Linked DNA regions of Homo sapiens. The protein of the gene in region 1 purifies or fractionates together with the protein of each later gene. This does not show direct contact. Each region holds a gene or a part of one and is shown in the gene's direction. Other genes may lie near its edges. The genes, in order: HDAC1, ARID4B, DNTTIP1, MIER3, ING2, PHF12 and CTNNB1.

Evidence for each region.
Region 2: the proteins of HDAC1 (region 1) and ARID4B purify together in Homo sapiens (co-immunoprecipitation; 8 studies listed by BioGRID and IntAct, with this or other methods). This does not show direct contact.
Region 3: the proteins of HDAC1 (region 1) and DNTTIP1 purify together in Homo sapiens (co-immunoprecipitation; 8 studies listed by BioGRID and IntAct, with this or other methods). This does not show direct contact.
Region 4: the proteins of HDAC1 (region 1) and MIER3 purify together in Homo sapiens (co-immunoprecipitation; 5 studies listed by BioGRID and IntAct, with this or other methods). This does not show direct contact.
Region 5: the proteins of HDAC1 (region 1) and ING2 purify together in Homo sapiens (affinity purification with mass spectrometry; 8 studies listed by BioGRID and IntAct, with this or other methods). This does not show direct contact.
Region 6: the proteins of HDAC1 (region 1) and PHF12 purify together in Homo sapiens (affinity purification with mass spectrometry; 8 studies listed by BioGRID and IntAct, with this or other methods). This does not show direct contact.
Region 7: the proteins of HDAC1 (region 1) and CTNNB1 purify together in Homo sapiens (affinity purification with western blotting; 6 studies listed by BioGRID and IntAct, with this or other methods). This does not show direct contact.

Annotation. Positions count from the first base shown.
Region 1 is NC_000001.11:32,319,005-32,323,980, forward strand, and holds part of HDAC1 (histone deacetylase 1), read left to right. Parts: intron 1-4,976. UniProt on the Homo sapiens protein: Histone deacetylase that catalyzes the deacetylation of lysine residues on the N-terminal part of the core histones (H2A, H2B, H3 and H4).
Region 2 is NC_000001.11:235,166,402-235,168,790, reverse strand, and holds the end of ARID4B (AT-rich interactive domain-containing protein 4B), read left to right. Parts: intron 1-138; coding exon 139-266; 3' UTR 267-1,889; downstream 1,890-2,389. UniProt on the Homo sapiens protein: Acts as a transcriptional repressor. May function in the assembly and/or enzymatic activity of the Sin3A corepressor complex or in mediating interactions between the complex and other regulatory complexes.
Region 3 is NC_000020.11:45,804,547-45,809,522, forward strand, and holds part of DNTTIP1 (deoxynucleotidyltransferase terminal-interacting protein 1), read left to right. Parts: intron 1-599; coding exon 600-658; intron 659-759; coding exon 760-820; intron 821-4,567; coding exon 4,568-4,639; intron 4,640-4,976. UniProt on the Homo sapiens protein: Increases DNTT terminal deoxynucleotidyltransferase activity (in vitro). Also acts as a transcriptional regulator, binding to the consensus sequence 5'-GNTGCATG-3' following an AT-tract.
Region 4 is NC_000005.10:56,934,318-56,939,293, reverse strand, and holds part of MIER3 (mesoderm induction early response protein 3), read left to right. Parts: intron 1-276; coding exon 277-411; intron 412-1,595; coding exon 1,596-1,716; intron 1,717-3,542; coding exon 3,543-3,628; intron 3,629-3,793; coding exon 3,794-3,866; intron 3,867-4,976.
Region 5 is NC_000004.12:183,509,844-183,513,755, forward strand, and holds the end of ING2 (inhibitor of growth protein 2), read left to right. Parts: intron 1-438; coding exon 439-1,109; 3' UTR 1,110-2,586; downstream 2,587-3,912. UniProt on the Homo sapiens protein: Seems to be involved in p53/TP53 activation and p53/TP53-dependent apoptotic pathways, probably by enhancing acetylation of p53/TP53. Component of a mSin3A-like corepressor complex, which is probably involved in deacetylation of nucleosomal histones.
Region 6 is NC_000017.11:28,909,110-28,914,085, reverse strand, and holds part of PHF12 (PHD finger protein 12), read left to right. Parts: intron 1-48; coding exon 49-207; intron 208-808; coding exon 809-1,604; coding exon of another isoform or gene 1,605-1,630; exon of another isoform or gene 1,631-1,942; intron 1,943-2,848; coding exon 2,849-2,974; intron 2,975-3,716; coding exon 3,717-3,860; coding exon of another isoform or gene 3,861-4,051; exon of another isoform or gene 4,052-4,976.
Region 7 is NC_000003.12:41,229,030-41,234,005, forward strand, and holds part of CTNNB1 (catenin beta-1), read left to right. Parts: intron 1-4,311; coding exon 4,312-4,415; intron 4,416-4,499; coding exon 4,500-4,838; intron 4,839-4,976. UniProt on the Homo sapiens protein: Key downstream component of the canonical Wnt signaling pathway.

The DNA of each region.
Region 1 (4,976 bases):
GCTACTCAGGAGGCTGAGGCAGGAGAATTGCTTGAACCCAGGAGGCAGAGGTTGCAGTGAGCCAAGATCGCGCCACTGCACTCCAGCCTGGGCGACAGAGCGAGACTCCGTCTCAAAAAAAAAAAATTCAGTCTGGGTGCCTATAGTCTCAGCTACTTAGGAGGCTGAAGCAGGAAGATTTCTTGAGCCCAGGAGTTCAAGGCCAGTCTGGGTAATATAGTGAGACCTGGTCTCTAAAAAAAATTTTTCTAATTAAAATAATTAGGTCTTGGATTTTTCTGTCATCAGAAATGGGGGCAGGAAGAATAAGCCTCTCTAAGAACTTCAGAGTACCTCACTGAGTTGATTTGTAGGGTTATGGAGGGTCAGAGTAGACAGAGACTTTAGATGTCACTTAACACAGTGCTTTATAACCTGGGGTATCTACCAAGACAGTAATGAGCCCTTTTTAAAAAAAGAATTATTTTTATTTTTATTCTTGTTTTTAGAGATGGGGTCTTGCTTTGTCATCCAGGGTACAGTACAGTGGCAAGATCATAGCTCACTGCAGCCTCAAATTCCTTAATCCTTAACTTGCCCTTTTAGAATATGTACCAATATCTAACCTAGGCGCTGGACATGGTAGCATGCACCTGTAATGCCAGTGCTTTGAAGGGCAAGGCAGGAGGGATAGCTTGAGGCCAGGAGTTCAAGACCAGCCTGGGCAGCATAGTGAGACCCCCATCTCTTATTTTATCTTAAAAAAATAAAAATAAAAAATTAGTTGTGTATGGTGGCACATGCCTGTGATTCTGGCTACTCAGGAGCCTGAGGCAGGAGGATCCCTTGAGCCCAGTTCAGGGCTGCATTGAGGTATGGTCTCATTTCGCCACCACACTCCAGCCTGGGCAACATAGCAAGAACTCGTCTCAATAAAAAAAAAACACACATGGCCAGGCGTGGTGGCTCATGCCTGTAATCCCAGCACTTTGGGAGGCCGAGGTGGGCGGATCACGAGGTCAGTACATCGAGACACCATCCTGGCTAACACGGTGAAACCCCGTCTCCACTAAAAATTTACAAAAAATTAGCCGGACGTGGTGGCAGGCGCTTGTGGTCCCAGCTACTCGGGAGGCTGAGGCACCAGAATGGTGTGAACCCGACAGGCGGAGCTTGCAGTGAGCCGAGATCACGCCACTGTACTCCAGCTTGGGCGACAGAGCGAGACTCCTTCTCAAAAAGAAAAAAAAAAAAACCCACACACACACAAAAACATCCCACACACCTAATCTAGGAAGTTATGCTTATGATAAGATCGAGTAAATCAGGTTTCCTTGCTTGTGGCTGAAATGTAATAAACCCTTTCTGGTCACTTTGAGAGCCTTGACCAGAAGTTCTGACCTAATATTTAGCAAGTGAAAATGGGAACACAAATAAATGCATTTAGGGGGCTTTTGGTGAAAACATGATAAAAGGGATTGGTAAAAAATTGGGAGACATTCTCATCCATTTTACAGACATGTAAACTTTCCCAGTCACACAGCAAGGTGATGGTAGAATGCAGAATGGAACTCTAGTCCCCCAATTCTGTAGTTTTAAAAAATATAGTGTATATAAAATATTTTAGATACACAGGCCAGGCAGGGTAGCTCATGCCTGTAATCCCAGCACTTTGGGAGGCTGAGGCAGGTGGATCACTTGAGGCCAGGAGTTTGAGACCAGCCTGGCCAGCGTGGTGAAACCCTGTCTCCACCAAAAGTACAAAAATTAGCCATGTGTGGTGGTATATGCCTGTAATCCCAGCTACTCGGGAGGCTGAGGCATGAGAATTGTTTGAACCTGGAGGGCAGAGGTTGCAGTGAGCCAAGATCGCGCCACTGCACTCCAGCCTGGGCGACAGAGCAAGACTCCATCTCAAAAAAAAAAAAAAAAAAAAAAAACAGAAAAAGAAAAAAACATATTTTAGACACACACAAAAAGCATCAAAAAATAATATAATGCACTTTGGGAGGCCGAGGCGGGCAGATCACGAGGTCAGGAGATCAAGACCATCCTGGCTAACACAGTGAAACCCCATCTCTACTAAAAATACAAAAAATTAGCCGGGTGTGGTGGTGGGTGCCTGTAGTCCCAGCTACTTGGGAGGCTGAGGCAGGAGAATGGTGTGAACCCAGGAGGCGGAGCTTGCAGTGAGCTGACATTGCGCCACTGCACTCCAGGCTGGGCAACAGAGCAAGACTCTGTCTCAAAAAAAAAAAAATAATAATAATAATATAATGAACATCCATGTGTGCCCAATACCCAGCCTGAGAAAGAAAACATTATCAATACAGTTGATGCCCCCTTGGGCATCTTTCCTTGATCACATACCCTTTCTCTCCCACTCCCCCAGCCCCCCACCCCATTACCAGCACTGCCAAGGTATAAGCACTATCCTGAGGTTAGTGTTTAATCTTCCCATCTCTTTGCAATGAGCATTTGACTGCCTTCTCTGCCTACGTCTGCTTCCACCTCTCACCCAGTATTGCTTCCCTTTAGTCTAAAGCTAGTGTGAGAATGAGAAAAGCGTTTATAGCAGAAAGAGAGAAAACCCATGGAAAAGTCTTCCCTACCCTCACAGATTAGCTCACATGAGTATCTGCTCTTCCATTTGCCCCCTTTCCATCTCTAATCACATAGCTTATTGACTAGGAATAAAAGGGCTGGTCATTTGAGCTACATGTTGGTTTGGTGCCTGAAGAAAAATATTTTTTTTTTTCTCACGTCCAAAACACCCATTCCTTCCCATGGAGGCTCCATATCCCAAATAAGAGTATAAACAAAGCTTTGGAAACGCAGGCAGGCCAAACTCTGTGCAGGAGGAAGTGGCCAGAGAGGGAAATCAGTTGCCAATGGATAAACAGCCGGGGCCCAGGGACCAAAGTTCTTATTTACACAGCCTCCCAGTGTTTACCCAGGAAGTGAGGAAGAGACCCACCCGCTGCACACTCCCTCATGCAGCCATGCTTCTTCCTCAGAGCACCGGATCTTGGCACCCTCCAAGTTTAGTGCAGAACCAGAGCTGGTAACTCTTGTGGTTATTGTAGATCTTGAGCTTCAACTGTGTCTTGAGATTTTACCAGCACAATCCAAACTGAGCTCTTCTGCTCTCACCCCAGGGCTGCTCCTTCCTCTACTTTTGGAAATCTTGATAACAGTGGGTACAGTAGAAGGCTGGGCAAGAGAATAAGTATGCAGCCCCACACCTCCTGCCTCTGACTTCCTGTAGCTCATTGATGTCTCAGCAGTTACTTTTTTTTTTTTTTTCTCCTGAGATGGAGTCTCGCCCTGTCACCCAGGCTGGAATGCAGGGGTGCAATCTTGGCTCACTGCAACCTCCACGTTTTGGGTTCAAGTGATTCTCCTGCCTCAGCCTCCTGAGTAGCTGGGATTACAGGCACATGCCTGGCTAATTTTTGTATTTTTAGTAGAGACGGGGTTTCTCCATGTTGGCCAGGCTAGTCTTGAACTCGTGACCTCAAGTGATCCACCTGCCTTGGCCTCCCAAAGTGCTGGGATTACAGGTGTGAGCCACCGCGCCCGGCCAGTAGTTACCTTTTCTGTAAGAGGAGATTTGGAGCTATAAAGTTCCTCTAGGTCTGTGAGTCTACAGCCTCCAGGTGTGCTTTCCTTCCTGTTTTCATTTCATTTGCCTTATTGTTTGCATATGTTTCCACATTATGTACTACTTGGTACTTTTACCCCATTAGGCCCGAAATAACTTTACTCCACTTGTCACTGTGAATGTAGCAGTAAGACACTGGGCTACGGGAGTCAAGACACCGGGACCCTGATTCTGGTTCTGCTACTGCCTGGTTTTATAACCTTGGGCAAATCACTTAACTTCTCGGTATCTGTTTGTTCCTCCGCACAGTGGGGTTGATATCTGGCTTGTCCAGCTCATAGAGTTGTTGTGAGGATCAAATGAGGTTGTATATGTGAAAGGACTTGGAAAAGGGCCGGGATATATTTTCACAGGCTTTTAAGACAGACAGGCTGGCTGGGCACGGTGGCTTATGCCTGTAATCCCAGCACTTTGGGAGGCCGAGGCGGGCGGATCACAGGGTCAGGAGTTTGAGACCAGCCTGGCCAACATGGTGAAACCCCGTCTCTACTAAGAATGCGGAAATCAGCCAGGTGTGGTGGCAGGTACCTGTAATCCCAGCTACTCGGGAGGCTGAGGCAGGAGAATGGCTTGAAACTGGAGGGCAGAGATTACAGTGAGCCAAGATCACTTCACTATACTCCAGCCTGGGCAACAAGAGCAAAACTCCGTCTCAAAAAAAAAACAGACAAACCAAAGCTTGAGGCTTGCATACTGCTTCTGCCATTTACTAACAGCTCACCTCTCTGAACCTGTTTCCCTACTTATTTATTTATTTATTTTTTTGAGACAGGGTCTCACTCTTGTCTCGCCCAGGCTGGAGTGCAGTTGCGCGATCTCAGCTCACTGCAACCTCTGCCTCCCGGGTTCAAGTGGTTCTTGTGCCTCAGCCTCCCAAGTAGCCGGGATTACAGGCAGCTGCCACCACACCTGGCTAATTTTTATGTTTTTGGTAGAGATGGGGTTTCTCCATGTTGCCCAGGCTGGTCTTGAACTCCTGGCCTCAAGTGGTCCTCCTGCCTTAGCCTCCCGAAGTGCTGGGATTACAGGTGTGAGCCACTGTGCCAGGCCTTGTTTCCCTACTTATAAGATGGGACCAAATCTTACCTCAGAAGCTTGTGTGAAGATGAATGATCTCGGGTATTTAACGCATGTAGCGCAGTGTCTGGCGTGTTGTACGTGCGCAGTGAACGATAGTTCTCTGGGTCTCTGTTCTTGCCCCTTGTTTGTCAGCTGGCGTGAGGGCCAGAGGATAAGTTTTTCTCCCTCAAGAAACGAACCAACATTTTCCAAGTTGCTAACTGCTTCTCCATATTAGATTTTTGTTAATTTTCTGACCAGTGGGTGAGGTGGG
Region 2 (2,389 bases), about 200 Mb from region 1:
GAGAATTGACCACTGTTGTTGTAAGCTAAATGATTTTGGACAATATAGCGGAATTTTAGTTCAGAGGACTAGTATTTTCTGTCTATTGTTAGACATAAATTTTTATTAAGCTCTTGGTTTGGTCTCCCTTTTCCTTAGGTGCTGCTACATCCTCATCCTCCTCTTCACCTTCATCCAGTTCCATAACAGCTGCTGTTATGTTAACTTTAGCTGAACCGTCAATGTCCAGCGCATCACAAAATGGAATGTCAGTTGAGTGCAGGTGACAGCAGGACTTGCTAAAGCACTTTGCACTTAATGGCTGTTGAGGGCCACTTTTTTTTTATACTGCACAGTGGCACAAAAAAATATCAGACAAGCACTATTTTATATTTAAAAATTGTTTCTTGACAAGCTGACTTGGCACTTAAGTGCACTTTTTTATGAAGAAAAAGTACAATGAACTGCTTTTCCTCAAGCAATAATTGTTTCCAACTTGTCTGGGAATTGTGTGTCTGGTAACTGGAAGGCCTTCCACTGTGGCAAATGGAGGCTTTTCACTGCCTGTAGAGACAATACAGTAAGCATAGTTAAGGGGTGGGTCAGAACATGTTAAGATAACTTACTGTATATGTATTCCCTTGTATTTTGTTAAAGCTGGAACATTTGATATTTTTCCATTTATTTATGAAAAAATATGAACCTATTTTCATTTGTACAAGGTAATTGTTTTTTAAAGCAAGTCACCTTAGGGTGGCTTTAATTGTATAAGTCAAGCACATGTAATAAATTCAAAACCTGCAGTTAACAGGATATTAGACATCAATCCTGGTAACCAAATATTAAAGATTCTCTTTAAAAAAGACTGAACATGTTTACAGGTTTGAATTAGGCTAAAAGGTCTTGCAGTGGCTTTTCATGGCCCTTCAAATTGGAATGGAACTACTGTACTTTGCCATTTTTCTATAAATCAGTATTTTTTTTTAATTTTGATATACATTGTGTGAAAAAAGAAAATGGCTAATAAACTGTATTAAATCTTAAACAATGTATAAAGATTGTACTTAGCCAGTTCAAAGTGTATATTTATTCATAATGAATTATAACAGTTATATTTTTGTGTTTTCTTGTAAATGTTTCTTTTCCCTTAAATACAGATAATTCATTTGTATTGCTTATTTTATTATGAGCTACAACAAAAGGACTTCAGGAACAAGTAATGTATTAGTATGGTTCAAGATTGTTGATAGGAACTGTCTCAAAAGGATGGTGGTTATTTTAAATATAAATAGCTAATGGGGGTGGTAGGCCTATAAAATTAAATGCCTTGTATAAAATCCAAAATGAATGCAAAATTGTTTTCACTTGTATTGACTTTATGTTGTATGATTCCAATCTCTGTTCTGTTTGGCACTTGTATTTAATTCTTCACCTTTGTAAGACATTTGTATATTGTGGATGTGTTCATTCAAGCTATTTAATATCTGGCACTGTTAATACACAGTACTTTATTGTACAGACTGTTTTACTGTTTTAATTGTAGTTCTGTGTACTTTTTTTGGATGGGGCTGGCATGTTTTCTTTGTTTCCTGGCAATACGACGTGGGAATTTCAATGCGTTTTGTTGTAGATGCTAACGTGTCAGAATCCTTTACATTCAACTTTTCTAAGAAAAGCATTTTCAGTCTTGTAGTGTGTGCTTACAGTAACTAATTTTGTTGAAAATGGTTTCAAGTTATTCAAATTTGTACAGGACTGTAAAGATTTGTTGACAGCAAAATGTTGAAGAAAAAAGCTTATAGAATAAAAGCTATAAAGTATATATTAGGATCTGCAAACAATGAAGAATTATGTAATATATTGTACAAATGTAAGCAAAGGCTCTGAAATAAAATGCCATAGTTTGTGAATCCTTGATTTTTGTTTCTAAAAGATTTAGTAATTTTAGTTCATTTCTGTATGTGATGACTGACTGGAACATACATATCCAGCACGTATTATCACAGGGGATTAATTGATACACAAAAAAAGGAAGATTCTACCTATGAAAATTAAAAGTCCATTAATCAGATAAGGAATGTATTAGGCATTCTTTTTTTTTTTTTTTTTTTTGGACACGGAGTCTTGCTCTGTCACCCAGGCTAGAGTGCAGTGGCGCAATCTCCAGCTCACTGCAACCTCTATCTCCCGGGTTCAAGCAATTCTCCAGCTTCAGCCTTCCGAGTAGCTGGGATTATAGACATCTGCCAGCACTCCTGGCTAATTTTTGTATTTTTAGCAGAGACGGGGTTTCACCGTACTGGTCAGGCTGGTCTCAAACTCCTGACCTCATGTGATCCACCCACCTTGGCCTCCCAATGTGCTGGGATTACAGGCGGGAGCCAACACACCCAGCCTAGGCATTCTTTTA
Region 3 (4,976 bases), on another chromosome or scaffold:
CTACAGAAGAAATAAAATGCAGTCCCCTGAACATAACCTCCTAAGACCTCCAACTCCTCTGTGTTTCTCTCTCCAGCCCCATCAGCTGCCACTCCCTAATTTGTACTCTCTCTGTTAGCAGCACAGAATTACTAGTAGTTTCTCCAGCAGGCCAAGCTGCCTCTCACCTGTCTTTGCTCATGCTGCCCCCTGTCTGGAATGCCCTTGTTCCTGACCCCCTTTACCCCAACTTGTGCTCACCCTTTCAGAATTAACTTGGGAAATGCCTCTCTAAGGAAGCCTTCCTGGCTGGACCCTCCCCTCGGCAGCCCTCAGACCCTGCACTCACTTGTGTCCTTGCCTCATCGCACAATGGTGTAATTATCTGTACATATGTTGGTGGCATCCTAGAAAACAGAGACTGTATCTTATTCATCTCTTTATCCCCAGTATCTAGCACAGACAGGGCCTAGCATATTGTGAGTACTCAGTGTCTTGGGTCAACTGTTGATTAAATAATAGACAAGGGGAAGGGTTAGAAAAGGGTAGGGGGAGGAGTGTTTCTGTCCTACCCATCAGATTAAACTTCACCCTCACGAGCTTCTCTATTTTTTGCACAGTGGGACCCAGCTCGCCTGAATGAATCTACCACCTTTGTGTTGGGATCTCGAGCCAACAAGTAAGTTTAAGAGCTTTGGCACTGATTGAGGAAACAGCTCAGGAGTTCACTAGTAGGACTACACTTTCTGGAATCTTGACCACTTGGCTTTTACTTTTCAGAGCCCTGGGGATGGGGGGCACCAGAGGAAGAATCTACATCAAGCACCCACACCTCTTTAAGGTAGGTGACTGCTGGGAGGAAAGCAGGCCATTGCATTGGGAGTAGACTGGGAACTCCACTCAGCACAGAGAAGCTTAGAACAAACACTGATCTTGGAGTCAGGACATCTGGGTTCTAGTTGTGCCTCTGCCATTCACCTTTCCCTTTCATGATTTACTCAACACCTCTGTGCCTCAGTAATAACAGCTACTTTGCTTGCATGCTTACTGGGTGCCAAACACAGTTTTAAATCCCACACTTATATTATCTTAAAAAATAAGTATTGCCATCCTTATTTCACAAATTTGAAACAATCAGAGGTTGAGAAAGGCTGAGTGACTTGCCCACAGTTATTCAGCTAGAAATGGTGAGTCAGGATTCAAATCCAGGTCTGTCCTCACCAAAGCCTGAGCTCTTAACCACTACCATATTTGGTTGTCTGTAAATTAGAGTTTGGGCCAGGTGCGTGAGCTCACACCTGTAATCCCAGCACTTTGGGAGGCCAAGGCGGGTGGATCACCTGAAGTTGGGAGTTCGAGACCAGCCTGACCAACATGGAGAAACCCTGTCTCTACTAAAAATACAAAATTAGCTGGCATGGTGGCTCATGCCTATAATTCCAGCTACTCAGGAGGCTGAGGCAGGAGAATCGCTTGAACCCAGGAGGCGGAGGTTGTGGTGAGCCGAGATCACACTGCCCTCATATTTGCATTTTAAAATAACTCTGGGGTCTGGCACAGTGGCTCACGCCTGTAATCCCAGCACTTTGGGAGGCTGAGGCTGGCGGATCACCTGAAGTCGGGAGTTCGAGACCAGCCTGACCAACATGGAGAAACCCCGTCTCTACTAAAAATACAAAAATTAGCTGGGCATGATGGCGCATGCCTGTTATCCCAGCTATTCAGGAGGCTGAGGCAGGAGAATCGCTTAAACCCAGGAGGCAGAGGTTGCAGTGAGCCAAGATCTCACCATTGCACTCCAGCCTGGGCAACAGAGCAAAACTCCATCTCAAAAAAAAAAAAATAGAGTTTGGAGCAAGGCAGGGTCCTGTGCCTTTTCAAAGAGGGTACTCCTCTTCTGAGAGCAGCTATGTTTTGGTCCCCACTGTTTGAGGGAATAATGGAGGAAATCATAAACTCACTCACCCTCTTAGATGATTTTGTATTTTATCAGTCACGAGAGCATCGAAGTAGATTAGAAGAATAGCAGTGCATGTGTGTTCCACACATGGTTTTTTGCACTTATACGTAAGGCTTGGCACCTCTTGCCAGAACTGCACAGCCCTGTGGGATCCCAGAATCACGGGCTTTCTCTACCACATTCTGTGCAAGTTTTCAAGTTCTTTGAAAGGCATACCTGCTCACGCTTCTTCTCCAGTCTGATATCCTCGAGTCCCAACACTTAAACAGTTTGCCCAGTGGCTCCTTTGTTTTCCTCTCTTAATGTCGTCACTCTTGCTATTCCCATTGCCTGGGTGGCCTTTCTCTCCCACCCTTATCTGCCTGACTATTCTTTAAGATCCACCTCCTCCAAGAGCTTTGTTTGTATCATCCCCAAAATCAATATGCTTTTGGACCTACTTTGAATTCCCACTTCAGCGTGGTTTAAAGTATGGCTTCAGGCCTGGTTCCATTATTTTACTAGCTGCATGAACTTGAACAAATGGCTCCACATTTGTTTTTCTTTTTTCTTTTTTTTTAACTAGCTCAAGTCTGGGAATTGATCCACATTTCTGAGTCTGTTTTTGTCCTGTATAAAATGAGAATAGTGATAGACCAACCATTTTTTTTTTTCTGAGACGGAGTCTTGCTCTGTCACCCAGGCTGGAGTGCAGTGGCGCGATCTCAGCTCACCGCATCCTCCACCTCCTGGGTTCAAGCAATTGTCTGCCTCAGCCTCCCGAGTAGCTGGGATTACAGGTGCCCACCACCATGCCCGGCTAATTTTTGTATTTTTAGTAGAGATGGGGTTTCACCATCTTGGCCAGGCTGCTCTCAAACTCCTGAGCTCAGATGATCCACAGCCTCAGCCTCCCAAAGTGCTGGAATTATAGACTTGAGCCACTGCACCTGGCCCAACTTTACAAATTCTCTATTAGTGATTATAAGTATCTTTTCAGTCATTTAGAATCTATTTGTATTTCTTCTGTAAGCTGCCTGTTATATCTTTTGCCCATTTTTCTCTCCTTCAGAAGGCATTATTCAAATTCTTTTCCTTTTTTAAATGTTTTGATTATAGAAATAATATATAAACCCATTCCCGTGGTAAAAAGATTCAGACGATACACAGGAGGTAGTAGAGAGCAAAACACAGTTTCTCAGCCAGGTGCAGTGACTCACGCCTGTAATCCCAGCACTTTGGGAGCCCGAGGCAGGCGGGTCACCTGAGGTCAGGAGTTCAAGGCCAGCCTGGCCAACATGGTGAAACCCCATCTCTACTAAAAGTACAAAAATTAGCCGGGCATGGTGGTGCACTCCTGTAGTCCTAGCTACTCTACTCGGGAGGCTGAGGCAGGAGAATTGCCTAAACCCAGGAGGCAGAGGTTTCAGTGAGCCGAGATCACGCCACTGCACTCCAACCTGGGCGACAGAGCAATACTCTGTCTCAAAAAATATATATATCAGTTTCTCTTCACTCCTCGATTTTTTTTTTAAGGTGCTTAAATTCTGGTTTCTAGGTGCCCAACCTAGAATAGAAACCAGAATTTAAGCCTTATTTGGGTTGAGCACAGTAGCTCATACCTGTAATCCCAACACTTTGGGAGACTGAGTGGGTGGATCAGTTGAGGCCAGGAGTTCAAAACCAGCCTGGCCAACATGGCAAAACCCCATCTCTACTAAAAATACAAAAATCAGCTGGGTGTGTTGGCACGTGCCTGTAATCCCAGCTATTCAAGGCTGAAGCAGAAGAATAGCTTGAACCCAGGAGGTGGAGGTTGCGGTGAGCCAAGATCATGCCACTGCACTCTAGTCTGAACAACAGAGCGAGACGTCATCTCAATAAATAAATAAACAGCCAGGCACGGTGGCTCACACCTGTAATCCCAGCACTTTGGGAGCCCGAGGTGGGCAGATCACCTGAGGTCGGGAGTTCAAGACCAGCCTGACCAACATGGAGAAATCCCATCTCTACTAAAAATACAAAATTAGCCGGGCGTGGTGGCGCATGCCTGTAGTGCCAGCTACTTGGGAGGCTGAGGCAGGAGAATCGCTTGAACCCAGGAGGCGGAGGTTGTGATGAAGCAAGATCATGCCATTGCACTCCAGCCTGGGCAACAAGAGTGAAACTCCGTCTCAATCGATCAATCAATCAATCAATCAATAAACCAACCAACCTTATTTGTAACTCCAAAACCGAATTCTTAACCATGATGCTATTATGCGTCCGAGAGTACATGAGGTGTCCCGATTTTTGTTTTATTATGGTCACCATAATAATTACAGACGTTATAAGCCACCTCCGATCATTTTTTAAAAAGAGGAAGCTCTAAAATAATAGTTATCAGTCCCACCAGTTGCCCGGGGTGCTTTGTTGTGAGAAGGGGGTGGGGATTGGGAGTATACTAAGTCTCTGGGAATTGGGTCCCATGGTCTGCCCTCGGGGTTGGCTTAGCTTTCTCTGAAGAGATTAGTGAGCCCTCTAAGTCCACCACGCTTGGAGACAAGGACTTTTGGTAAGAACTGCTCAAGGGCCAAGAGTATGCTCTGGGACCAAATGAGAAAAGCCCCTTACCCGAGGCTAATTTTCTTACAACTTCATTCCTTACAGTATGCAGCTGACCCCCAGGATAAGCACTGGCTGGCTGAGCAGCATCACATGCGGGCAACAGGGGGCAAGATGGTAAGCATTATTCATTTGTGCCACTGCCAGTGACCCACCCCACCTGGGAACCAGGATTTTGGCTGTGGGTGACAGCCTACCTCCAAATCTGACTTCCAAAGCCTCACCAATGTGTGAGAAGAGAGACTTATAAGGCCTATTTCTTCATGCTGAAGAGCAAATTGTAATCTTCAGGTTCCCTTCCCTATCCCTAGGTCTCCCTTCCGCCCCCTCACACTTTTACCTCATGCCTCCAAGATCACATATTTGGATACTATTAGCTGTCCATAGGAATAGCAGGTATAAGACACACAGTACTACTTTTTCCCACTACTGCACCCACTGACAGATTTCACTC
Region 4 (4,976 bases), on another chromosome or scaffold:
TAAAGCAAATATTTGAGGAATTTTTAAAATAGTAAAATGCTTCTAGAAAATAAAAACTAAGGTGTTAATTGTTAGGCTGTTGTTTATACATTAATTATAGCTCCAGGTGTTTGGTCCTGTTTTCTGACAACAGCACAAAAAGAAAAACTGAAACTTGCCTTTGATTTGTTCTGCTGTTTTGATAATGTGCTTTCTGAACCTAAGGACAGTACAGTTTACCTGCAGTTCAGTATTGTGACATCTGCTGAGTCCGTGTTTATGCCCTGGCTTGAACAGGAAGGAACCATGCCTCTAGAAGATTTACTGGCATTCTATGGCTATGAACCTACAATTCCAGCAGTTGCAAATTCCAGTGCAAATAGTTCCCCAAGTGAACTGGCAGATGAACTACCAGACATGACACTAGACAAAGTAAGTGTGAGCATTTGAAAGAAAAATTCAGGGTCTGTTACCATTGACTGCTTTTACTTCCATTTAAAGTATTATTTAATAATTCTTAAATGTAAACTTCTTGTTGACCCATTGTGCTTATTTTGGTGGCTGATTTAAACTTTGTTTGGCTTTGATCACCCTATGTTAAGAGTAGTATTAATAGCAGCTTCATGGTACTTTGCATGCCTGAATATTCTCCCATAATGTTTTCATCTTTCCTGTGTAGACACATTGTATCTAAACTTAGATTTTGCCTTAACTTCTTTTGATCCTATAAACACATAAAAGCCTTGATTAATAAATCCCCCAGAAGCCTTCAAACCAAGCTGGCTTAGGCGTGGAGTGGTTGGAGAGAAGTTCTGTTTTCTTGGCTCTGGGAGTGACAGCGGCCGCAGCAGCCAAGACCGCGGTGATCCATCTCTAACGTAGGCTGGTTGTGGGGAGGCCTAGTCCCTGCTGAGGAAAATTCACACGGCCATGGCCTCTGCTAACAGATCCCTGGGAACCTTTCCTTGCCTTTCAGATCTCAGGCAGGGAGAGGAATCCACATCTTGGAACCTCTTCCTGTGAGTTATATTGTTCCCACTTTTAAGTCAATGTGATATTAATGTACCACAGACCTTAATGACCATAGTCATTCAACAAGTATTTATTGAGTGGCTACTTTGTGCTAGGCACAAGGATGACTGTATACTTACATAAAAATTAATTCAAACTTGTTTCTTTTAAAATTATGTCAGTAGTCAGTGCTGTTCATTAGTCGGACTTTTAAATTATTGGAAGAGTGGAGGTTGGAGGCATTTTTTCAGTTTTATTATTGACAGAAAATGAATATAATTGTTAACCACTTAAAAGTCAGACTGTTTTTGTTGTAAATTCACTAAAAATTAGCCTACAGCTTTAGATAAGCTCTCTGCATACCCACAAATTAGGCAATTGTTTTAGTATATGGTTGCACTGATTATCATTTAATAGTATATTATTGAATATTATATAATATATAATATTAAATATTTATGTACATGAAGTAAATCATAGGAGAATTTCATATTTCTCTCATAAGGTTCCAACTGCTTCTTAATGATATGTTATAAAAAGATAGTTTTCTTAATTAATGAGATGTAATCATTTCTAACTGTAGCACTGCCTTCTTATTCTTCCAGGAGGAAATAGCAAAAGACCTGTTGTCAGGTGATGACGAGGAAACTCAGTCTTCTGCGGATGATCTGACGCCATCTGTGACTTCCCATGAAACTTCTGATTTCTTCCCTAGGCCTTTACGATGTAAGAAACCCAGTGGATTACTGATAAATAGTAACATTGATACTGTAGCTTTAGTACATTTTATTGTGTTCAGTAATTTGTGTCAGAATATTCTAATATTTTATGTGGTTGAGATAAAATACTTCTATAATTTAAACAAGATTATAACCTTTCTTTTGGGATAGAGGTGAACTAATATGCCATTTAAAAATTGAAATATTTGGCCAGGTGCAGTGGCTCACACCTGTAATCCCAGCACTTTGGGAGGCCGAGGCAGACAGATCACTTGAGGCCAGGAGTTTGAGACCAGCCTAGCCAACATGGTGAAACCTGTTCTTTACTAGAAATACAAAAAATTAGCCAGGTGTGGTGGCATGCACTTGTAATCCCAGCTACTTGGGAGGCTGAGGCACGAGAATCACTTGAACCTTGGGGGTGAAGGTTGCAGCCAGCTGGAGATCATGCTACTGCACTGCAGCCTGGGTGACAGAGAGAGATTCTGTCTCAATAATAATAATAATAATAAGATAAAATAAAAATGGAAATATTGACTTTATTTTTACAAGGCCATTTTCCTTCTCAAGACTCATCTGTTGCTATGGTAATCATTCTTAGTTTGACCACAAAATTTTATAGACCTTTATTTGAATTTCTATTAAAAGGCTCCTGCTCTCCTGGTTTTGAAAACTTATCAGTGCTCAAAAGGTATTTTTACTTTTAATGATTCATCTTTTTCCTATTAGTTCTTGGTGTTACCTCTTAATGTTTATCAGTAATATTTAAAAGGTTTTGGGGTTGGTTGTGTGGTTGCAACACTTTGGGAGGCTGAGATGAGAGGATCACTTTAGGCCAGGAGTTCTAGACCACCCTGGGTAACATAGCAAGACCCTGTCTCTACAAAAAAATTTTCAAATAAAAAACTTAGCTGGGCATAGTGGCATGCACATGTAGTCCCAGCTATCTGGGAGGCTGAGGTAGGAGGATCACTGAAGCTCAGGACTTTGAGGTCACAGGGAGCCATGAACAGGCTACTGCTCTCCAGCCTGGGTGACAGAGTGAGACCCTGTTTCTAAAAATAAATAAATAAAATGTTTGGACTAAAATAATTTCTTAGATGCAATCTCACTTTTTTTTTTTAGGTATTTTTATGATAGAAGAACTGTTTGGTCAATAAGTTCAAATATCCATGCATTCGTGTGTGTACAAAAACAGTTTTGATGGACCTGATATGCAACTCTGTGTGTGTATCTCCTGGATTAGTATAATCAGAACTCCAGTGTTTTACTTTCTTTTTAAGGTGACCACAGTGGTTTCCTTTTACCTCCCAAACTATTTAATAGTATACCATAATAATTATCAGGATACTATACACTTTTTTTTTTGAGATGGAGTCTCACTCTGTTGCCCAGGCTGGAGTGCAATGGCGTGATCTTGGCTTACTGCCACCTTTGCCTCCCAGGTTCAGGCGATTCTCCTGCCTCAGCCTCCCGAGTAGCTGGGATGACAGGCACCCCCCACCACGCCCGGCTAATTTTTTTGTATTTTTAGTAGAGCCTGTCGGCCAGGCTGGTCTTAAACTCCTGACCTCAAGCGATCCACCCACCTCAGCCTCCCAAAGTGCTAGGATTACAGCCATGAGAGCCACTGCACCGGCCAGGATACTATACACTTTATTAGGATTTTCAGTGTCTCATTTTGACCAATGTCGATTGTGAGAAACATGCAGGTGGTTTAGTATACTTATGCTGATCTCACATATTTAACAACATTTTGTAAAATACAACAGGCATTCTTCCAGGTTCTGCAAAAATAGGCAGTAAAAACCTTTTTAATTTTTGTCTTTTAAGCAAATACTGCATGTGATGGTGATAAGGAATCAGAGGTTGAAGATGTTGAAACAGACAGTGGTAATTCACCTGAAGATTTGAGGAAGGTAAGCTGAGTTAATATAGTGGACTAAATTGGCTTTTAAAAATATTTCTGAAATGATTTATGATAATTTTGTTGTTTTGACTTGTAGAAACTGATTAATGATATGGGGCTTTTTTTCAGTATTTTTTTTTTAATAAGTTATTTTTACCTCTCAATTTTCCTGTAGGAAATAATGATTGGTTTACAATATCAGGCAGAGATTCCCCCTTATCTTGGAGAGTACGATGGTAATGAGAAAGGTAAGGAAAGCTTTTGATTTTGATAATGTTTGGTAGATAAGGTTACCACTTGATAAGTGTATTTAAATATCTGGCTTTATACCAGCCTTGGCAATAGATAGATAGATTTGGGAAACATGCAGAGTTAGGATTTTTAGGCCTGACTTAGGAAAAATGTATCAAAGTTAATCACTAGACTCAGAGTTTCCCCCCACCCCCAACCCTGCCCAAGGCACACATAGTGCTTATTAGCCAGTGTGCTCAGTGCCTGTTCGAATAATGGGGAGCCTCCCACGGTGCTGTACCTTGGCCTTCATCCTGCTTCAGTAGAAGTGGGTAGGATCTCATCACCTGAGATAATGAGAATGTTAAGATATAATCTTCTGGAAAGAAAACTCTTGAGGGAAAAAGAGACTGGAAGAAATTCTCCTTCCCCAGCCCCAAAAGAGCAGGAAGTGAAATGTAAGGATCTGCTTTCACTTGTATACTCCTAATTATGTGTAATCAGTTTTTCCTCATGTTTTTGGTGCATTCCAACTGTAGTTGGTTTTCAAAATATGGAGGGGATAAGGTAGTAGGATATAAAAATATAGGTAAACCTTCTTAGTTGAACTTGGGAATATTTCCATGGGTGTTTGGCCTTTTCCCTAAGTTGATTTATCCTTGTGAAGTCACAAGGGCAAAAGCAGCACCCAACACAATACTTCCTGAGTCCTTCTTTTTTCCTTTCCTCCATGCCAGGTCATCCTCCATTTAAAGGAGGGGAGGAGTGGTTACCCTGGGGTTGTTAGCCATGGCAGCCACTAGGAACACCGTTTTCCTAAACTGCTTTCAAAGTGTTAAAAGACAGTTATCCCAGGGGAAGCAAAACATAGCTGATGATGTTCAGATGTGCCAGCCTTCTCACCTCACCACCCAAATGCCACACTTGGCCTTTGAGCCAAGTACATACTCAGCAACTGTAGGTCCTTAGGTCACACATAGTAGAGGTGATATTCTGTCAGTGCTGCAGATTGGAGGGAAGGTGTACTTTCTCTGTCTTTTGAGGGAATAAACCCAAATTGTTTTACCTATTTCACTTGTGACCAAAGAGTAAAGAAAGTTCTAGGAACTTCTCTCAAAAGTCAAGTC
Region 5 (3,912 bases), on another chromosome or scaffold:
TGCCTCAGCCTCCCAAGTAGCTGAAATGATGAGGGGCGCCTGCCACCATGCCCGGCTAATTTTTGCATTTTTAGTAGAGACAGGGTTTCACTATCTTGGCCAGGTTGGTCTTGAACTCCTGACCTCAGGTGATCCACCTGCCTCGGCTTCCCAAAGTGCTGGGATTACAGGCGTGAGCCACCGCGCCCAGCCTCTTTTTAATATAGATTAATGAGTATTAGTTTTGTGTTCTTTCTTTTCATTACTTTATTTCTAACTATACTTTCATATTAGATAATGTGGTCTTTGTATGAAATAGTTTTTAATGTATATGTACCAAAGAGGAGTATGGTTTCATGGTTTGAGTTCTAATTTCAATTCTGTAAAAAATAACTACCTTGGAAATGTTGTGTCTGCTAACACATGATAACGTTCTCATTTTTCTTTTCCTTTTTTTAGAAACGTTAAAGGAAATTGATGATGTCTACGAAAAATATAAGAAAGAAGATGATTTAAACCAGAAGAAACGTCTACAGCAGCTTCTCCAGAGAGCACTAATTAATAGTCAAGAATTGGGAGATGAAAAAATACAGATTGTTACACAAATGCTCGAATTGGTGGAAAATCGGGCAAGACAAATGGAGTTACACTCACAGTGTTTCCAAGATCCTGCTGAAAGTGAACGAGCCTCAGATAAAGCAAAGATGGATTCCAGCCAACCAGAAAGATCTTCAAGAAGACCCCGCAGGCAGCGGACCAGTGAAAGCCGTGATTTATGTCACATGGCAAATGGGATTGAAGACTGTGATGATCAGCCACCTAAAGAAAAGAAATCCAAGTCAGCAAAGAAAAAGAAACGCTCCAAGGCCAAGCAGGAAAGGGAAGCTTCACCTGTTGAGTTTGCAATAGATCCTAATGAACCTACATACTGCTTATGCAACCAAGTGTCTTATGGGGAGATGATAGGATGTGACAATGAACAGTGTCCAATTGAATGGTTTCACTTTTCATGTGTTTCACTTACCTATAAACCAAAGGGGAAATGGTATTGCCCAAAGTGCAGGGGAGATAATGAGAAAACAATGGACAAAAGTACTGAAAAGACAAAAAAGGATAGAAGATCGAGGTAGTAAAGGCCATCCACATTTTAAAGGGTTATTTGTCTTTTATATAATTCGTTTGCTTTCAGAAAATGTTTTAGGGTAAATGCATAAGACTATGCAATAATTTTTAATCATTAGTATTAATGGTGTATTAAAAGTTGTTGTACTTTGTCTGTGACCTTAATTTTCTGCACTGAGTTACCAAATATTTCCAACCAGGTAGTCTTCAGATCACCTGATGAAAGGAGCAGGGAACAGGAAGAGGGTGGTGTAAACATTATAAAAATTTCACAAACCATGCCTATTTCATTTTCACTTAAAACTGCAATGTTATTTTTTGGGTAAACACAAAAGTTTCACTAGCATTTTAGTTATACATGCTTAAAAAAATGTTAGATGTAGTGGGATTTCTCTTAAGCATCAAATGATCTTGGGTACTTTAAAATACAGACACTATGCCATTTGAGCTGCTTTTTCCCTAGTCCTATTTATACGTTGGCTTGTTCATCTCTAGTCTTCTAGGAGTTTAAGGAACTGGAGATAAGAGTAATTTGGGATTCCATGTGGAATAATGTGCTCTTATGAGAGTACGTGCTGCTGTCTTTTGCTTAGTAGCATTTTGATCCACTGTCAGTAGCCCATTTGTCAATGCCTTGCTGCTGCTTTGTAGATATACTTAGTCTAGTGCTTAATAAGGGAGTTGTTTTGTGTTTTCTTTTAATTGGGACAGGTAAGAGTAGTTAGCATACCAAAAATATACATTGGCTTACATTGGCAAACTTTGGGTTATATAGTATCACGGCTCAAGGTTGAACAATTTAAAAATACATCTTAATTAATAGTATTTTCCATGTGACCTGCTGCCAGGATGCGTAGCCACAGGCCTATCAGTGGAAAGGGGCATATAGTAGTCTTTAAATATTGCCTTTATGTCAGAGAGTTGTTTTAAATGGTTTTGCTAGTGGTTATTGTTCATTTCTGTCCCAATCAGTGACTATTTTAAATAATAGTGTATTTACTGTCTTAACTTCTAGTATTGGTGCTGTTTGATGTTTTCACATTTAATTAACTTATTTCATCATCATAATGCAATTAATGTATTTGTAAATTGAATTTTCCAAGATTCTGATATTTGAAGGGTAAGCATCTTGATGGATATATGTCCATATGTTTAGAGAAGGTTTTGGTTTTGGGGGCAGCAGATTGACTAGTTCTTTAAATCTGTGTGTAACGTATGTTTTATTCCTCATTTCTTCCTAATCTGATGATCTTGATTCTTTTTGATTAACATGAAAAATCCTGTCTGCTTGTTTTGGGAAAAAAAAATGCTTTTTTTCTCTTCTAGCTCTCCTGTGTGACTTTTAGGCATGTCATTTCACCTTGTCTGGGTGTCAGGTCATTCACCTGTAAAATGAGTTGGCTTAAATATCTCCGAGATTCCTTGGAAATTTCTACTATTTGCACTATAGTGAGGATTTTAATAATGACATGACTTCTCTTTTCATTAATTTTGTCCTTCATTCTGAGGTATAAAGATAGTTTAAAGGTGAGTTTGGAGATGGGTAAATGTGCAATATTTGTTAGCTTCTGTCCTAAGAATATTTGGATTCATGACTAGAGCTAGTTGATTCTATTACCTTTTGAGTGAGAAATGTTAGACAGCATGATTAAGAATTTAGCAAATCCTTTCTCATCACCATAACTTAGCTGAGTTGTAAGGAAATCCTTTTGAGAATATGGCATTTTGTTTTAGTGATTACAACCTTGTTACCAGAATGGAGCTTTTTACTTGACACCATTAAAAATATCAGTATGGACAAAACCCCCAAAGCCTTCAGATGCGACTTACATAGAAGTCACCACTTTTTCATACGTAAATCTGCCTTGGCAGATGGGAGAAAAGAAACGACTTCCTAATAGAAATGCCAAAGTTTGGATTAGACTTGACGGGAAAACGAACCTGGAAAATCCTGGAAGGTGTGCTCTCTTTAAGACCTAATATCTGAAACAGTTTTATGACTTTTTTGTTTTGTTTTCTACACATCTTGGAAATAGAAGTCTTAAGCATGCGTAGCATTAGGACTGGAATTTCTTTTGTTGAGTATTCTGGATCTCATATCATGGTTACCAACTCATACTGTATACACCAGTGGTTCCCAAACTTAACGTTGGAATTACCTGGGAGTTTCAACAAATACTGATATCTGTGCCCCACCCTCAGCAATTGTGATCTAAATTCATTTGGAATGTGGCTTAAGCATTAGAATTTTTAAAAGATCCCCATTATAATATATGGAAATGTTTTGGAACCACTGCCACATTTCACAGTTTTCAACTTATTGAAAGCTGCTGTGGATTATCTACATCCAGATTTATGCAAATCTGAAGCAGATACAGATGCTTATACACACATGAGAGTATCTCCTGCCCCCAGTGGCTCCACCACCAGTGCCTGAATACTCAACATCTGAGTGCTAATTAATGTGCCAGGCACCGTTTTAAGCAGTTGTGGTGTAAAAAGGAAATATCCCTGCTTGTGGACGATACATTCTAGTGGAGGAGTCAGATACATAAAATGTCAGGTAAATTGCTAAAGTGAAAGGAAAACTGAGTAAAGGGCTGGAAATGAATGGAAGGGGGGGTGGCAAGTCTTTTATTTATGGTAATTTAAAAAGGTGTCCCTAAGGAAGTAATCCTTAGAGCTAAGAGCAGAAATAAGGCAGGCAAAGATTTGAGGGAGGGAGGAGGGAACAAGCTTGGCAGGTTGACTAAAGCAGGGCATTAGAGCACAGTGTACAAGGGGCTGGGAACTGGGGACTCTTGGAAGCCA
Region 6 (4,976 bases), on another chromosome or scaffold:
TGTTGGAACTATCTCCCTCTCCTTCCTCCTTCTATCTATCCTGAACAGGTTCCTGATGCTATAAAATCTCAGTACCAGTTTCCACCCCCTCTCATTGCACCCGCGGCCATTCGGGACGGGGAGCTGATCTGCAATGGGATCCCTGAGGAATCACAGATGCACCTTTTGAACTCTGAGCACTTAGCCACCCAAGCAGAGCAGCAAGAGGTGAGTGAAGGTGGGGCGGGGATTCCAAATCCAACCTTCCTTCTGTGTCACCACAGCTGTTATCAGAAGTAGCCTCAGTGTCATTCTCATTCCAGTCCCCACCCACCCTCATCCTAACCCCTCAAGAGTTGAGTATTCCAGGGGGAACTTCTGGCTCAAATCCCAAAGGCAAGTAAGAGATCTACAAAGGCAACTGGTCTGCTTCTCTCCATCGTTACCCCAGTGCACTGTGAGATGGGCAAATCTATACTGTAGAAAGAGATGAGTAGACCCATAGAGAGGTTAGGTGATAGTGCTGGACATACCACAGGTGCTCGGGGTAATTGCTGAATATTGGTCACAAGTAAGCCTTAAAGGCAGAGTCAAAATGCAGATCCCAAGCTCTGTTGGCCAGAGGGAGTGTTGGCCTGCTGAGGGTACCTATAAGTCTTGCTTGGGAATGGAAATGGAATTCTATCAGGAGTCAAGCACACCCTTTGTGAGCATTCATGATGGGACCTCGGAAACTGCTTGTCAGCTCTGCTGCAGCCCTGGCCACTGTGGCAGGAAGGACCGGCGCCTCTCAGGCTTCTCACCCCCCTCTCCTCTCCTTCCATTGCAGTGGCTCTGTAGTGTTGTTGCGCTCCAGTGCAGCATATTGAAACATTTATCTGCTAAGCAGATGCCTTCGCATTGGGACTCTGAACAGACAGAGAAGGCTGATATTAAGCCTGTTATTGTGACTGACAGCTCAGTCACCACCTCCCTGCAAACAGCTGACAAGACACCTACACCTTCCCACTACCCCTTGTCCTGCCCCTCAGGGATTAGCACCCAGAATTCCCTGAGCTGCTCTCCACCCCACCAGTCCCCAGCCCTAGAGGACATCGGCTGCAGTTCTTGTGCGGAAAAATCCAAGAAAACCCCTTGTGGGACTGCCAATGGGCCAGTGAACACAGAGGTGAAAGCTAATGGCCCACACCTCTACAGCAGCCCTACTGATTCCACGGACCCCCGGCGACTTCCAGGCGCTAACACCCCACTACCAGGCCTCTCACACCGGCAAGGCTGGCCCCGGCCCCTCACGCCACCAGCGGCTGGGGGCCTTCAGAACCACACCGTCGGCATCATTGTGAAGACAGAGAATGCCACTGGCCCCAGCTCTTGCCCCCAGAGGAGTTTGGTTCCTGTCCCAAGCCTGCCCCCTTCCATTCCCAGCTCTTGTGCCAGCATCGAGAACACCAGCACTTTGCAAAGAAAGACTGTCCAATCACAGATAGGACCTCCGTTGACAGATTCAAGGCCACTGGGCTCACCCCCAAACGCCACCCGGGTGCTCACTCCCCCGCAAGCAGCAGGAGATGGTATCTTGGCCACAACAGCCAACCAACGATTCAGCTCACCAGCGCCATCGTCAGGTGAGTGCTGCTCAGCCTTGGGTTGATTTGGAATAATTTTATGCTCTTTCTGGCAAATAAGATTCTAAAAGCACTTATATCCCTGTGAATACTTCAGAGGACTTTGGCCTTTGTATTGTTTGTCTTACTCTCATTTCCGTAATAGAAGAGGAAGCACATGTTAACTTGTCCCGTTTATAAATGGGACTGCTTAGGCTCTGAAAGCTTCAGTGATTTCCTTAAAATGACCTACTGAGTCAGTGGCAGGATTGGAACCACAGCCCAGGTCTCCTGACTCCATCCCATACCTTCCAGGCCTAGGCCTCTGCCTGTTTTGTTCTGTCACCTTAAAAGAAGGCAGGGTGCTCTCTGGAATTACTATGATCAGCCTGAGGTTCTGCGTGATGGCCTCAGTATTGTCAGATCCACACAAAAGAATGGATTCATGCCTGATGCATATTCTCAGAAAGAGTTAATCTGATGAACTTCCATGTCAGGAAGCAGGGCTAGACAGCAGCACTGTCTTTCAGAGGAGCTGTAGAGTGGGATGCCCACAGGGATTGTTCTAGCCCAGAAGCGTGCCCTCAGGCCACATGCCAAAGGGCGGTCCTTCAGGTCTGTACTTGGCCTACTGTGGACCTGCTCTCTCAGCTGTCCCCAGAGAGCACTCAGGACCTTGAAGTTGCTGACCCCAGCATCTGAACCAGGTTTCAGATGCTGCCGGAACCCTCTGTGGTCTCTCCCGTCTGAACTGAAGCCGGCCTCCTAGTCAGCTGGGAGTCTCGGTAACCAGATGATTGTGATTTCTCTGCATGGGAGCCCCTGGTCCCAGGATGGCCCCGCTCCCAGGCTGTTTTCCTATCTCTGTTTATCGCTTAAAACCAGCGTGGGTAGATTCTCCACGCCGTGAGTCATATTTCAGTAGGCAAGAATTATAAGGGCAGGCACTACTTATTTTAAAGTAGAGGCAGCAGGGAGGTGGTCATGGCCCAAAGAATGAAGCTGCCCCACCACTTTCCCCAGAGCAGTGGATTTCAGTGGTTCTCAGTGCTCTGGAGACTCCTGCGTGCCTGGGTGCTTTGTCGTTCCATCTGCCCTTCCTCACCACACGTTTTTAGCTCTAGGAGTTCCAGAGCCTATGGGTTGAGAATCAAGAAGGGAACATCACCTTGGGTCCGAAATCCAGACCTGTCTCAGCAGTGGGGGATTGGACGGTGGGTTTCCCTCAGGCGACGTAAGTAACAGTCTTCCTGCTCCGTCCCCAGATGGCAAGGTCAGCCCCGGCACGTTATCCATAGGAAGCGCTTTAACCGTACCCTCTTTCCCAGCCAACTCTACTGCCATGGTGGACCTCACCAACTCACTTCGAGCATTTATGGATGTCAATGGAGGTGAGTGAATGAGCTGCTGCTGTTCCACCGTTTGCTATGTTGAAGGTGCTATTCCTATACAGCATTCAGCTCATTTCAGAAAGGGAGGGAAGGGACACCTGATCCCAGAGGCCTAGGGGGAGATGGGAATGAGGAGTATCCTTTTGGATGGGGGGGCGGGGTGAAAAAGAAAGCTCCTTCTGTAGCTCTGCCTTCTACATGTGCATATACACATAATCAAAGATGAAGGGAGGACAGAGCCAAGCTGAACCAGTGAGACGAGAACAAAATCACTTTAGGCAGATCACCTGGATTTGCAGAATAAAACTAAGATCCTCACTCCCAAAGGAGGGACCTCATCTGTGGGAAACCCCCAAAGTCCAGGAGAACAGGGACAGATCTTGATCTCTGTGAACACAAGGTGGGTAGAAAGTTCAAGTCTCAATATCAGACATCCAGGCCCTCCCCCACAGACAGGCAAGTGGTTTATTCCACTCTGCCTTTCTAGGGGCACTTTAATTAAAATCAGTCCACCCAACTACAGGAGGCAGCTGCACAGGCTGCATTGGGGCCCATCTCACTGCAAATGGCAAGTGAGATGCCCAGCTGCAGATCCTTGTACGCTCTGCACTCAATGCTGTTTGAGTAAAAATCACTTGGCTGGATTTTAGAAATGCCAAACTATTTGCTCTGTGACCCTGATTTGCTTCCACATTCCACTTCCCATCTCAGCTGCTTTTTAATCTTTCTCTTTGGCTAATAGAAATCGAGATAAATATGCTGGACGAGAAGCTGATCAAGTTTCTGGCCTTGCAGAGAATACATCAGCTTTTCCCCTCCCGGGTCCAACCTTCACCGGGCAGTGTCGGGACACATCAGCTGGCTTCTGGAGGGCACCACATAGAAGGTGCGCATGTACACACCTGTCACCACATCATCAGATCTCCCCTCTACGTGTGCGAATGGTCACCTTGCCTCCATGGAGAATCTGAGCTTCCAGTATCTCAAACCTCCTTGTGTGCTTTTCATGGGCTTAATAAAGCACCATGGTTTTTTTCTGAAGAGAGCAGGAACAAGATGGCAACCACAGCTTTCTGATCAGACTTGGGGAAGTCTGCTGTAACTTTCTTTCATATATAAGTCCACTTCGAGACACAGCAAAGCAGCTACCAGTACCTTTGGGTATATGTAGTGTACTTTCTGCTTACTTGCTTTCAAATATTTGAATTAGAAGGGCTTCCCGACTGAGTGCAGTGGCTCACACCTGTAATCCCAGCACTTTGGGAGGCTGAGGCGGGAGGATCACTTGAGCCCAGGAGTTGGAGACCAGCCTGGGCAACACAGTGAGACCCTATCTCTACAAATAATTTTAAACTTACCCAGGCATGGTGGCATACACCTGTAATCCCAGCTGCTTGGAAGGCTAAGATGGGAGGATCGCTTGAGTCTGGGAGGTCAAGGCTGCAGTGAGCTATGATTGTGCCACTGCACTCCAGCCTGGGTGACAGAGTGAGACCCTGTCTCCAAATAAATAAGTAAATAAATAAATAAAATTTTAAAAAGAATGGCTTCCCAAGAGGGAACTTTTCAAGTTCAAGTTGAGAAATAGAATAACACTAGGCCAACCTTCTGGAAATTTTCCCCAAGTGGTTAACTCTGTTTCAGATATGTCTGAGCATTGGCCATTAAGAGCCTTGCTGCTTCAAAGTGTGGTTCGCAGACCAGCAGCATCAGCAGCCCCTGAGAGCTTGTTAGAAATGCAGAGCTCAATGCATTGGTTTTTTGCCTATTTTTAAAGAAAACAGCAAAAGAAATGCAGAGCTAAGGCCCCTCCTCAGACCTATTGAATCAGAATCTGCATTTCAACAAGATCTGTAGGCGATTCTTATGCACATTAAAGTTTGAGAAACACTGGTCCATGCCGTCTGTTTTTCCATATTCTCCCTATAGTACCAGCTGGAATATCCCGGATTAGCCAGCCAGGAGCCCAGGAACTTACACAGTACTGTCATCTCTGACTTCT
Region 7 (4,976 bases), on another chromosome or scaffold:
CTTCTGGGCTTTCTTTTCTGTTCCATTGGTCTCTGTGTCTGTTTGTATACCAGTACCATGCTGTGATTGTAACCTTGTATTAACAGTATAGCTTGAAGTTGGGTAAAGTGATTCCTCCAGTTTTGTTCTTTTTGCTTAGGATTGCCTTGGCTATTCAGGCTCTTTTTTGGGTTCATATGAATTTTTAAATAGTTTTTTTTTAATTATGTGAAGAATGCCATTGGTAGTTTGGTAGGAATAGCATTGAATCTGTGAATTGCTTTGGGCTGTATGGCCATTTTAACAATATTGATTCTTCCTGCCATGAAATAGAATGTTTTTTCATTTGTTGGTGTCATCTCTGATTTCTTTGAGCAGTGTTTTTTGTAATTCTCATTGTAGAGATCTTTCACCTCCCTGGTTAGTTGTATTCCTAGGTATTTTATTCTTTTTGTGGCTTTGGTAAATGGGATTGCATTCTTGATTTGGCTTGCAGCTTGGATGTTGTTGGTGTCTAGAAATGCTTCTGACTTTTGTACATTGATTTTTATATCCTGAAACTTTGCTGAAGTTTATTGGATCAAGGAGCTTTTGGGCAGAGATTATGGGGTTTTCTAGGTATAGAATCATATTGTTTGCAAACAGACTTCCTATTTGGATGCATTTTCTTTCTCTTGCCTGATTATGAGCAGTGTTTTGCCCTGATATTCTGTATTCTCAGTGAATAGATGTCGTCTAAGTATGAGAAACAATTTTTTTCTATTCTGAGTATTTTTAAGAAGGCAACTTATATGTGGTACTTTGTATATTGTGTATGTTGGCAATTGGGGAAAAGAATAGATGGTTTGTACTAGGGCCTCTTGGGTTCTGTGTGTGTGTGTGTGTGTGTGTGTGTGTGTCATGAAAACAGTTACTTTTTAGCTACCAAGCATTTTTTCTCCTTTCAGTAACCCACCTAACAACATTTACTCAGAATTTCAAAGCAAGCTTCAAATCAGTATTGAAAGAAGGAAAAATATAAAGGCATTTAATGGAAGAAAATGTTGGGAATAAAGTATAGGGCTGGCAACACTTACTTTTCTCACTTATTGAGAGTAATTTTACTTGGGAATTTATGAGAGAGAAAGACATTATGATTGCTCCAGGTAACTACTGGCAGAGGAACCATAGTCTTGGGGATAGACAAATGTGGCTGAGTTCATATAGAATGAGGGGATGGGATGTAAATTCTGTCAGCTGTTCCAGCAGTAACCTGTAATGTAGGCTAAAAATACAGATTTTGAGATTTATTTAATCAGAATCCCTGGAGTGTTAATTTTTATATCAAGATCTCATAGTGTTTTATTTGAAGTGACAGGGAGGTCTGTAGATAGCTGGACATGTATGGGACTGGAAGCTTAGGAATCTTTAAGTTCTTCCAGGTTATTCTTATGTTCATTTGTTTATTCTGAAAATAGCATCTAATGTATTTTAAGAAATGGAATAGGCACATAGTATACATTGGGTAACACAACAGATAGGGTCCCCGTGCTTAATTCTTAGTCTTGTGAAGGTGACAAAAATACTTAAAAATATGTGATCCTAAATTAGAATGAGTGTTATGGGAGAAATGACAGCAAATAGTGATGAGAATTAATGGGGAGGGGAATTGTCTAGATGAGAGGGAAAAGGTCTCCTTGAAAAGGGGATGTTAAGTGGGACTGCAGGATGAGAGGGAACCGTCTCTTGTCTATATGAGAAGTGAGGGTTAAACGTTTTCCAGGTAGAGAAAAGGAACACCATGTGCTATGTCTTAGAACCAGGGATATCCAGTCTTTTGGCTTCCCTGGGCCACATTGGAAGAAGAATAATTGTCTTGGGCTACACACCAAATACACTAATGATAGCTGATGAGCTAAAACAAAAAAAAATTGCAAAAGAATCTCATAATGTTTAAGAAAGTTTACGAATTTGTGTTGGGCTACATTCAGAGCTGTCCTAGGCCATGTGGCCCATGGGCTGCAGGTTGGACAAGCTTGCCTTAGAAGGAAAGAGATTGGTCAGGCACGGTGGCTCACGCCTGTAATTCCAGCACTTTGGGAGGCTGAGGTGGGCGGATCATGAGGTCAGGAGATCGAGACCAGCCTGGCTAACACAGTGAAACCCCATCTCTACTAAAAATACAAAAAGTTAGCCGGGCGTGGTGGCAGGCGCCTGTAGTCCCAGCTACTTGGGAGGCTGAGGCAGGAGAATGGTGTGAACCCGGGAGGCGGAGCTTGCAGTGAGCTGAGATAGCGCCACTGCACTTCAGCCTGGGCGACAGAGTGAGACTCTATCTCAAAAAAAAAAAAAAGGGAAAGAGATTGTGGAGATCCAGGTGCTGAAGAGAAGGTCTGCATAAACAGAACTTAGTAATGAGGTGGATGGCCTGGTATGAGGTTGAGGTTAGGTAAGCAGAGCCATAACATGCAGGACTTTCTAGGTTCCTATAAGATAGTTACTACTCATGGAGTTTATTCATGCTTTATTCCAGCTTTGGAGCCATAGATACAGAATACTTTGGTCAGTTTGGAAGGCTAGGTGGGATCCAAATTCTAAACGGTTCCTCAGGGTTATACTAAAGTATTTCTATTATCTTAAAAGGATGCTGAGACACTTTCGATGGTTGTTTATCAATAGCAAAGCATCACAGTGGTGTGTTTAAAATATTAATAATAGCATTGTATAGATTAACAGTTTGAATGACCAAAAGCTAGAAGACCAGACTACTGAGATGTTACAGGCTTTTAGGAATGAAATAGTTTGCTTTTAGAACTCAATAGCAAAGGGCAGATGTCTGAGATGCCTGAAAGAATCATAGAATGTAATAATATAGGAGCTAAGGGAGCAACCAAAAACGGTTTGTGGAGGGGACAACATTGGTACCATGAAGATAAATGGAACCCTCAGAAGGCATCCTTAATTTTTGAACATAATAATTTAAGAAGCTGACTTAAAGTGACTTAAAAGGTCAGTAGGTAGCTGGAAATGTATGATACTAGAATGCAAGAGAGGCAGGCTAGAGATTTGGAAGTTTCCCTCTTAGTATATAGGGGTAAGGGCAGCAGGGAAGGGGAGGTAGAGGTGCCACAGAGTCATCTGTATGGGACTTTTTTTTTTACCCTAGAACTGCTGAATCAGAATGTGTGTGTTTTAAAGTCTCTGTAGGCCATTCTGATGGACATCTGGGGTTAAAATCCATTCTCTTAGAGTTAATAGTTATGTAAAGGGAGGGAATGAAGTCTTAAAGAGGGGAAAGAAGGTAGTCATTTCACAAATACTGAGCATCCTGATCATCAGTCTTACGCAGATCATTCTATTAGTAGCTGGAGCTACTATGAAAAAGGAACCCAACAGAGGTGATCTTTGTCTTGTAGGGAAAGTGGAGTAACTTACACTATGAAGGAGAAGTGCAGGGTACCATAAGAATTACAGCAGATAGACCTCATCTGAGGAAATAAAACAGACCCGAAAGATGAAGGAGACAAGGAAAAGTATCTCTTACTGCATTCAGAAGTGATTTAAGTTGAAGATGGATGAGCGAAGTTAATCTACTATGTGGGCATTGGGCTTCCATTTATACTCCTTTGCCAGAGTAAATGTCCCCCATTTAAGGGTCCTAAAGGATGGAAGATTGTAAACCTTGGAACACATGTTTTGTAGTCAGTGAATTGTATAAAGTCCCTGACAGTAAGTGTTTTCATGCCGTCTTTCTGGATTGTTCTTACCCCAGGAATTTACCTAGCTTCTTTAGGTCTTTAGTCAGATGTCACCTTCACAGTGAGGTGACCTAATTATCTATTTAAAATCGCAGCCCCACTCCATTATTTTTCTCCATAGCCCTTTAATATCATCTGACATACTGTATGGTTTTAGTTTATTGTATATTTTTCTGCCTCTTCCAACTAGATCATAAATTCTGAGGGTAGGAACTTCTGAATATTTTTGTTCACTGGTCTATCTGCAGCTCAGAACAGGACCTGGTACTGAATAAATATTTTTGAAATGATTGAATGGATGAAAAGAAATGAGTAATAAGAATATTACCTAAGGGGGACAGTGGAGATAACAAAGGCTTTTTCGGCTTAGGAAAGGAACAGTAGCTATTTGAGAGTTTGTCACTAGTGAGGTGAACTGGCAAAGTGAAGGAAACTGAGCAACATTCTAGAAAATGAGAGGAAATCAAATACTTAGGTGAAAGGAAGTAAACTCTGGAAATACAGAAGGACACCTCCTAAGGCTAGAACAGATATTTAGGATTGATAGGCACTTCTAGCTAATGACTAGGGCCTTATATCCTTTTTAATTTTCTAGGTGGAATGCAAGCTTTAGGACTTCACCTGACAGATCCAAGTCAACGTCTTGTTCAGAACTGTCTTTGGACTCTCAGGAATCTTTCAGATGCTGCAACTAAACAGGTAAATTCTGAGTAAACTGGTGCCATGGGAATAGAGTCAAGATGAGTATGTGCTTGTACTGACCATCTGTTTTTATCTCCATAGGAAGGGATGGAAGGTCTCCTTGGGACTCTTGTTCAGCTTCTGGGTTCAGATGATATAAATGTGGTCACCTGTGCAGCTGGAATTCTTTCTAACCTCACTTGCAATAATTATAAGAACAAGATGATGGTCTGCCAAGTGGGTGGTATAGAGGCTCTTGTGCGTACTGTCCTTCGGGCTGGTGACAGGGAAGACATCACTGAGCCTGCCATCTGTGCTCTTCGTCATCTGACCAGCCGACACCAAGAAGCAGAGATGGCCCAGAATGCAGTTCGCCTTCACTATGGACTACCAGTTGTGGTTAAGCTCTTACACCCACCATCCCACTGGCCTCTGATAAAGGTAAATTGTCAAAGTAGAATTTACCTTTGTTGCAGAATTGAAAATGAAGCATCTCTAGCTGTTGGATGGCTGTCTAAGCATAGTGATCAATAAGTAGGAATTGTATTCCTTAGTAAGTAGGAAGTATGGCTGCGATAG